Linked DNA regions of Homo sapiens. The protein of the gene in region 2 purifies or fractionates together with the protein of the main gene of each other region. This does not show direct contact. Each region holds a gene or a part of one and is shown on either strand. Other genes may lie near its edges.

What was found. Proteins that work in one complex are often made in the same cells at the same time.
Region 1: the proteins of ZXDB (region 2) and SETD1A purify together in Homo sapiens (affinity purification with mass spectrometry; one large-scale study listed by BioGRID and IntAct). This does not show direct contact.

Annotation. Positions count from the first base shown.
Region 1 is NC_000016.10:30,974,754-30,978,253, reverse strand, and holds part of SETD1A (histone-lysine N-methyltransferase SETD1A), read right to left. Parts: intron 1-3,500. UniProt on the Homo sapiens protein: Histone methyltransferase that catalyzes methyl group transfer from S-adenosyl-L-methionine to the epsilon-amino group of 'Lys-4' of histone H3 (H3K4) via a non-processive mechanism.
Region 2 is NC_000023.11:57,590,866-57,594,810, reverse strand, and holds the start of ZXDB (zinc finger X-linked protein ZXDB), read right to left. Parts: upstream 2,801-3,945; 5' UTR 2,763-2,800; coding exon 351-2,762; 3' UTR 1-350. UniProt on the Homo sapiens protein: Cooperates with CIITA to promote transcription of MHC class I and MHC class II genes.

The DNA of each region.
Region 1 (3,500 bases), on a different chromosome or scaffold from region 2:
TCGCCAGGTGGGAGTGCAGTGGCGCAATCTCGGCTTACTGCAACCTCCGCCTCCCGGGTTCAAGCGATTCTCCTGCCTCAGCCTCCCGAGTAGCTGGGACTACAGGCATGCACCACCACACCCAGCTAAGTTTTGTATTTTTAGTAGAAGCAGGGTTTCACCATGTTGGCCAGGATGGTCTCGATCTCTTGACCTCGTGATCTGCCCGCCTCGGCCTCCCAAAGTGCTGGGGTTACAGGCGTGAGCCACTGTACCCAGCAGAGGGTCCTATCTTACAGACAGGAAAACTGAGGCACAGAGATGTGGTCAGTTACCAGATGACAGAACAAGCTCTGCTCCCAGGCCATGTGGGTTGAGCTCATGCTCTGAACTGCAGCCCACGGACTCACTGGCTTCACAACTGGCTTCCCCGCTCAGCGCCAACAGGGCCGCCGGCACCAGGCCCGGCCCTAGGAGGCAGCGATTCACCTGAGTCCACCGCACTCCCAACCCTGGCGCCCTGAGCCAGGCTCTTGGCTGCACCTTAGGCTCTAGACACCCGCTGGGGTCTCAGCCTGTGGCAGCAACCCACTCCAGGAAGCCAGTGAGGACCCAGATGCATGCAGGCCTCCTCTCACCTTCCTCCCCACCACGCTGGGGCAGCGCCCCCTACAGACCACCTCACGCTTCAGCATGCATGTCCTCGGGAAGCCTCGCTCGAAGAACACACTCCTCCACCAGCACAGCTGCTGCACACACACTTCCCTCTGCGACTGTCCCAAAGGGAACCTGCCCATCCCTCTCATTTAGGAGACAACTTTTGGGGGCACCTGCCCAGTCAATATGACTCCCACCACCTTCCTCTGAGAACTGCTCTACTGCCACGCTCAGGTCCATGGGGCGAGGCCCCAGAAGCCAGTTCCTACTGCATAACCTGCCCCTCCCCAGGGCCATCACTAACATCCCCAGGCGGCAATCACTAAGACGGTGGTGACTGAAACTGGTTCTGGTTATTAGAAACTCGGTGAGCTGGCCGGGCGAGGGGGCTCACGCCTGTAATCCCAGCACTTTGGGAGGCCGAGGCGGGTGGACCATGAGGTCAAGAGATCGAGACCATCCTGACCAACATGGTGAAATCCCGTCTCTACTAAAAATACAAAAATTAGCGGGCGTGATGGCGCGTGCCTTAGTCCCACCTACTCGGGAGGCTGAGGCAGGAGAATCACTTGAACCTGGGAGGCTGAGGATGCAGTAAGTCGAGATGGCACCACTGCATTCCAGCCTGGTGACAAAGCGAGACTCCATCTCAAAAAAAAAAGAGAAGAAACACAGTGAGCCTTCACTAAGCACCCCTTGCTCTGAGCCACGGCTCCTCTGTCCTCGGTAACTCAGACTCCCTTGTCGTGCCCTCTCACTATCCAGACACCAAGGGGCTGCCTGCATCTTCCTCTCCTCTTCCACCTCTGCCACCTCCCCAGGGGACTTGGCAATCACGCCTGTTTACCTGGATTCTTGCATCTCCAGTGATCCCCTTCAATCACCCTCAGCTCCCCTCAAGCAGCCACACACCTGGCCTTGTCAATCCCAGAATGGCTCCGCCTTGGAGATTCCCCATCCTCTCCAACATTCCCCACTGTCCATTCAGTCTGCCCCACTGCACCTTCAACTTCCCATCCTTCAGTTTCCCTCTAGCACATCACCCTCTTCCCAACTTCCTCCTCCACCCTGCCCAGACCCCAGGGCCCGTACTTTGCCCTCTCCTGTCCCAGCACAGCCCCAGGTCCTCATCATTCCACCACACCTTTACCCTGTGGAGCCAGCCAGCAGCCTCTTCTCCCCTCACTCCCAGGCCCCAGCTCTGGCAAGGCCTTCCAGCATGGGGAGGCCCAGGCGAGAGGCTTGCTCTGTCTCCAGGATACAGTGCAGCGGCACAATCACTGTTTACTGCAGCCTCCTCAACCTCCTAGGCTCAAGCAATCCTCCCGACTCAGCCTCCCCAGAAGCTGGGACCACAGGCATGTGCCACTATGCCTGGCTTTTTTTGTTGTTGTTGTTAGCCAGACTGGTCTCGAACTTCTGGGCTCAAGAGATCCTCCTGCCTCGGCCTCCCAAAGTGCTGGGATTACATGTGTGAGCCACCGCGCCTGGACTGGAGCAACTTTTCTCCACTTTCCAAGGTTCTTACTCCACTCTTCCTCTCACAGTCCTACAGCAACAGGGTCAAAAGAGGACTCAGGCACAACACCCCCATCTCCCTGCCTCCCCACCGAAGGGTATAACTGCATCAGATCTGGAAGCTACTCCTCCACCTCCCCAAAAAGGCCATGCCAGCAAGCATTCCTCTCTCCCGGCACATCTACCTGGCCCGTTCCCTTCAGTGGAACATGCCCAAACCTCATCTACTTGGAAAAGCTAACCCCTCCCTCAACCCTGCCCTCTCTTCTTGCTCTCCCTCCAGCTCTGGCTGGTAACCTTAGTTTGTTCCTGCATCTCACTAAGCCTTGAAGCCCTCATCTATAAAATGGGAATCACAGGGAGGTTGTGGGGCAAGCGCAGTGGCTCACACCTGTAATCCCAGTACTTTGGGAGGCCAAAGTGGGCTGATAACTTGAGGTCAGGGGTTTGAGACCAGCCTGGGCAACATGGTGAGACCCTGTCTCAACTAAAAATACGAAAATTAGCCAGGCGTGGCAGTGTGCACCTGTAATCCCAGCTGCTTGGGAAGCTGAGGCAGGAGAATCACATGAACCCGGGAAGCGGAGGTTGCAGTGAGCCGAGATTGCACCACTGCACTCCCGGCTGGGTAACACAATGAGACTCCATCTCAAAAAAAAAAAAAAAAAAAAGGGAGAGGTTGTGGGGATTCAATGAGAAAATGAATTGTCAACATGCTATGCCTAGAGCCTGGCACACATAGGTACTTGACACATGGGAGCTGATATCACAACCCCCAATTCTTTTTTTTGAGACGAAGTCTCGCTCTGTCGCCCAGGCTGGAGTGCAGTGGTACAATTTCGGCTCACCGCAACCTCCACCTCCCAGGTTCAGGTGATTCTCCTGCCTCAGGCTCCTGAGCAGCTGGGATTACAGGCGCCTGCCAGCATGCATGGCTAATTTTTTTTTTTTTTTGGAGACAGTCTCGCTCTGTCACCAGGCTGGAGTGCAGTGGCACGATCTCGGCTCATGGCTACTTCTGCTTCCCCGGTTCAAGCGATTACTCCTGCCTCAGCCTCCCGAGTAGCTGGGATTACAGGCATGTGCCACTATGCCCAGCTAGTTTTTGTATTTTTAGTAGAGATGGGGTTTCACCATGTTGGTGCTGGCCAGGATGGTCTTGATCTCTTGACCTCGTGATCTGCCCGCCTCAGCCCTCCCAAGTGCTGGGATTACAGGCGTGAGCCACCGCACCCAGCCTAATTTTTGTATTTTTAGTTAAGATGGGGTTTCACCATGTTGGCTAGACTGGTCTCGAACTCCTGACGTCAAGTGATCTGCCCACCTCAGCCTCCCAAAGTGCTGGG
Region 2 (3,945 bases):
AAAAAAACGCATGCCACATCACTGAAAAACGTCCTCATATTTTTCAAGGAAAGAAATGTATTATCAAGGAATCACAGAGCAGAAAGACCTTAAAAGCAATCTATTCAAACCACCTCAATTTATAAATAAGGAAATTAAGGCTCAGATAGGTTAACTGACTTGCTCAGGGTCACACAACTTGTCAGTTCCAAACTCAAGATCAGAATTTAAATCTCCAAACTTGTAGTCCAGGGCTGTGCTCTTTTTGCAAACCAAAAAGAAATGACTGCACTTAAATATTTAGTCCAGAATATCCTCAAAATTGACTGTAATAAAAGTAAGCCACATGATGAGGAATGAATAGAGTTGGTTCATACCAAAAATGAGCTGCCAGTCACAGTGATAAGATCTGTTTCTTTCTGAGAACCATGGTTTCCTGCTGCATTGGGGAATCCAAACTGGGTTTCTCCCTCCTGTCCAAAGAAGTCAGAGTCAGGATGTACGTTCCACTCCGCTTTGGTTGGTGTCAGTAGTTCTGAGACACTGTTTTCACAAAGGGTGCTCGAAGGAGTCAGAGCATCTGTGTCCACTGTTAGCTTACTGCTGGGTGTCAAAGCCTGAGGCTCTGGACTGGAGTTTTTCATGGCCAAAGAGTCCAGAGATCCCAATGGCCCCACACTTACACTTGAGACCTCATCCATATTTAAGGAGCTCTGCTGAAAACCAGTGGCCGCCGTTCCAAAAAAGAGAGAGGTATCCAGACTTTGAGGAGGGTCGCTGGTGGCCATCAAGGACGGAGGGTCCACAGCCTGCCCTACGGAATTATTATTATTAGCAGGGAGGTGCCCTGCCAGAGTCGAGCTCACAGAAGCCACATCAATAGTCAAGATTCCAGAGTTCACCAATGCTGTGTCCAGCAATGCAGCAGAAGTACTGTCAGGTACATCAGAGAAGAGAGACACTATCTCTGCATCACTGAGATCATTCTGTCTCTGGCTGGTAAGTTCACTGCTGGGTGTGAGAGAATTTGCTGCTTCTAGCTGAGCTAAGAGATCCTGGCCCACCTTATGCCTTTTAACCATGTGCGTCTTCATGCTGTGCTTGGATGTGAAGAGTTTATTACAAGAGGAGATCGGGCAACGGCTTTTCCAAGTGTCCACATCCTGCAGGTGTTTCTTGGAGTGAATGTAGAGGCTACTGCGAGCAGAGAACCTGGCACAGCAGCCTGCCACAGGACACACGAAAGGCTTTGTGCCCAGGTGGGTTATGCTGTGGCCTTTCAGATGTTCCGCCCTCGTGAAAGATTTCCCACAGCCTTCCACAGGGCACATGAACCTCCGGTCATCGTCGTGCTTTCTTTTGTGCCTTAAGAGTTTGGACATGCTAGTGAAGTTCCAGCCACAGCCATCAAAGTCACAAAGGAAAGGTCTCTCGCCGGTGTGACTCCGCAGGTGAATTTTCAGCCTACAAGCCTTGTCATATTGTTTGCTGCAGCCAGGAAAAGAGCAGGAAAACAGTTCCTGTTCCCTGAAATGGGCGCGGTTATGGGAAAACAGAGCACTCACTGTGATAAATGTCTTCTTGCAGCCAGAAAACGCGCACTGGTAAGGCCTCTCCGGTTCGAAGTGGCTGCGCTGGTGGGCGCTGAGTTTGGCCTGCGTGGGGAAGCTCTCCTCGCACACCTCGCATTTGAATGAGTTCTCCTGCTCATGGCCCTTCATGTGCGCCTTGAGGTTGTACACTGTGGTGAAGCTCTTGCCACAGCCCTCTGCCGGGCAGCCAAAGGGCCGCAGTTTGTCGTGCGACTGCAGGTGCCTCTTGAGCTTGTAAGAGGTGGTGAAGGTCCAGCCGCAGCCACCCAGGGGGCATTTGAAGGGCCTCTGGCCCTGGCTGCTGCTGTGCGTCAGCAGGTGCACCTTCAGCTGGTGCTTCTTGGCGAAGGTTTGCCCGCACTGCGCCTCGGGGCACAAGTACAGCACCACGCCTGGGCCGGAGCCCAGCGGTCCGCGGGGGCCCAGGGCGGCGGCCGGGCCCTCCGCCTCCTCCTCAGGCGCCGGAGCTGGCGCGGGTTCGGCCGGCTCAGCTAGCAGGAGGTCTGGCGGCAGCTCTGGGCAGTCACCCGGGTGCGCGGCATGCGGGAACCCAGCTTGCGGGGCGATCAGACACCCGGGCTGCTGGGCAGGAGCGGCCCCTGGCTCCCAGGCGTGTGGTGGGGGCGTGGCCAGGGTGAGGACGCCGTTCTCAAAGCGCAACAGCAGGTCCTGGTTGTGGATAGTGACTGTGCCCGCGAAGGCCGCGGCGGGGCCGGGGGCGGAGATCGGGGCCGGAGTGGGAACCGCGGACAGGCAGCGGGGGCCTAGCGCAGTGGGCCCCGCGGGATTCGCGCCGCTCTCGCCCCCCTGGAGCCCCGGGCCCTCCTCGGCCTCCTCCCTCAACACAGGCCCTGCGGCCTGACCGGAGCCCGCGGTCTCCACGTCGCCACCCACCGGGTCAAGCAGCACCAGGAAGAAGTCGTCGCCGCCGCCGCCGCCGCCGCCGCTAGGTTGATCGGTCCTCGGCGCCAACAGGCTTGGGCCAGGGCCCCGTGATGCCGTGCTGGCCTCCTCGCGCCGCCGCCCGGGCCCGCCATCTTGGGGGCCCCGGAGCAGCAGGAGGCGGCGCGTGGGGACCTGGCCAGCCGGCGAGTCAGGGCCTCGGTGGACTCGGCCGCCACCCGCGGGGATACCGCCGCCGCCGCCGCCCTGTAGTGTCCCGCGAGCCGGGAGCAGCTTCGGGATTTCCATCTCTGCGTCCGAGAGGCTCGGCTGGAACCAGAGCCGAGGAGGAGGCGCGATCCCGCCCCCTGCCGCGGGCCTGAACACGTTCCTGAAAGGGGAAAAAAAAATGTGCAATGCGCAGAAACTGGCCCTATCAGATATTAAAACGTATTTAACGCCACAGTGATTTAAATATTCTGGTACTGGGTCTCTGGAACAGAATAGAAAGCCCAGAGGTAGAGCCTGGTATGCATAAATACGTTCTACAGTTAATATAAGTAAGTAATTAAGGGGGTCTTCTGAGGTAATGGGGAAATGACGACAGCTTGTTCAGTAATGCTGTGGAACACCTAGGTATCTATCCGCTGGAAGCAATTTTAATCCATGACTCATTGTATATACCCAAATAAACACACCCCAGCCCCTCCCAGTGTTAGATATGTTGCTTCGTACTTTCTGTGTGTTAAAATTTGCTGGCTGGCTGGCTGGCTGGACTGATGGATGAAAGACAATTCCTGAGAGAAAAAACTGTCTCTGTGTCAGCATTAAACCACCATAGCGCTGGCAGTTCTGCTGAAAATGTCCTTCCCCTTCCCACCTCCCCGCGGGACAACTTCCATATTCACAATTATCTTGAGCAAAGTCTTCGGTACAATTTGCCGCATAGTTCAAATTTTGTCTTGCTGATACAGACATTAGAATGAGTGAGAGATGCGGCCAAAACAGGTTAGCACTCTTCAGCCTAGAAATTCAAAGTCTGGAGGATGAAACAATTTACACTGAAATCTGGAAAAAACCCAACCTTCTCCTGGCTTCTCCCTATACAGTGCACAACCTAAACCAACTTTTGCCCTTCCACCATCGGTTGTACTGTGATAAATTTCATGTCTGCTCTCACAGCACAATGAGGGCATTCATTCCTCAGTTTACTCTGCCTTCTCCAGCACGTGGAGGTCTCTGGGCAGGAGTTTCAGTTAAATGTGTTTAGGTTAAATCCTGAGTCACTGCAATGGATTCTGCCAAGTAAAAGGCACAGACGATCTTGTCCAATCAACCTGGTGTACCTGTTCACATTTAAGTGTGGTGGCCCAGGCTTGCTGGGCCTGTGGTGCCTAATGATCTTATTAATGATGATGACAATCCTTCATTTTGTCCGTTACGACTGAGTTGGGAATTGACACAAATATAGGGTGAAATATCTGAGATAAGA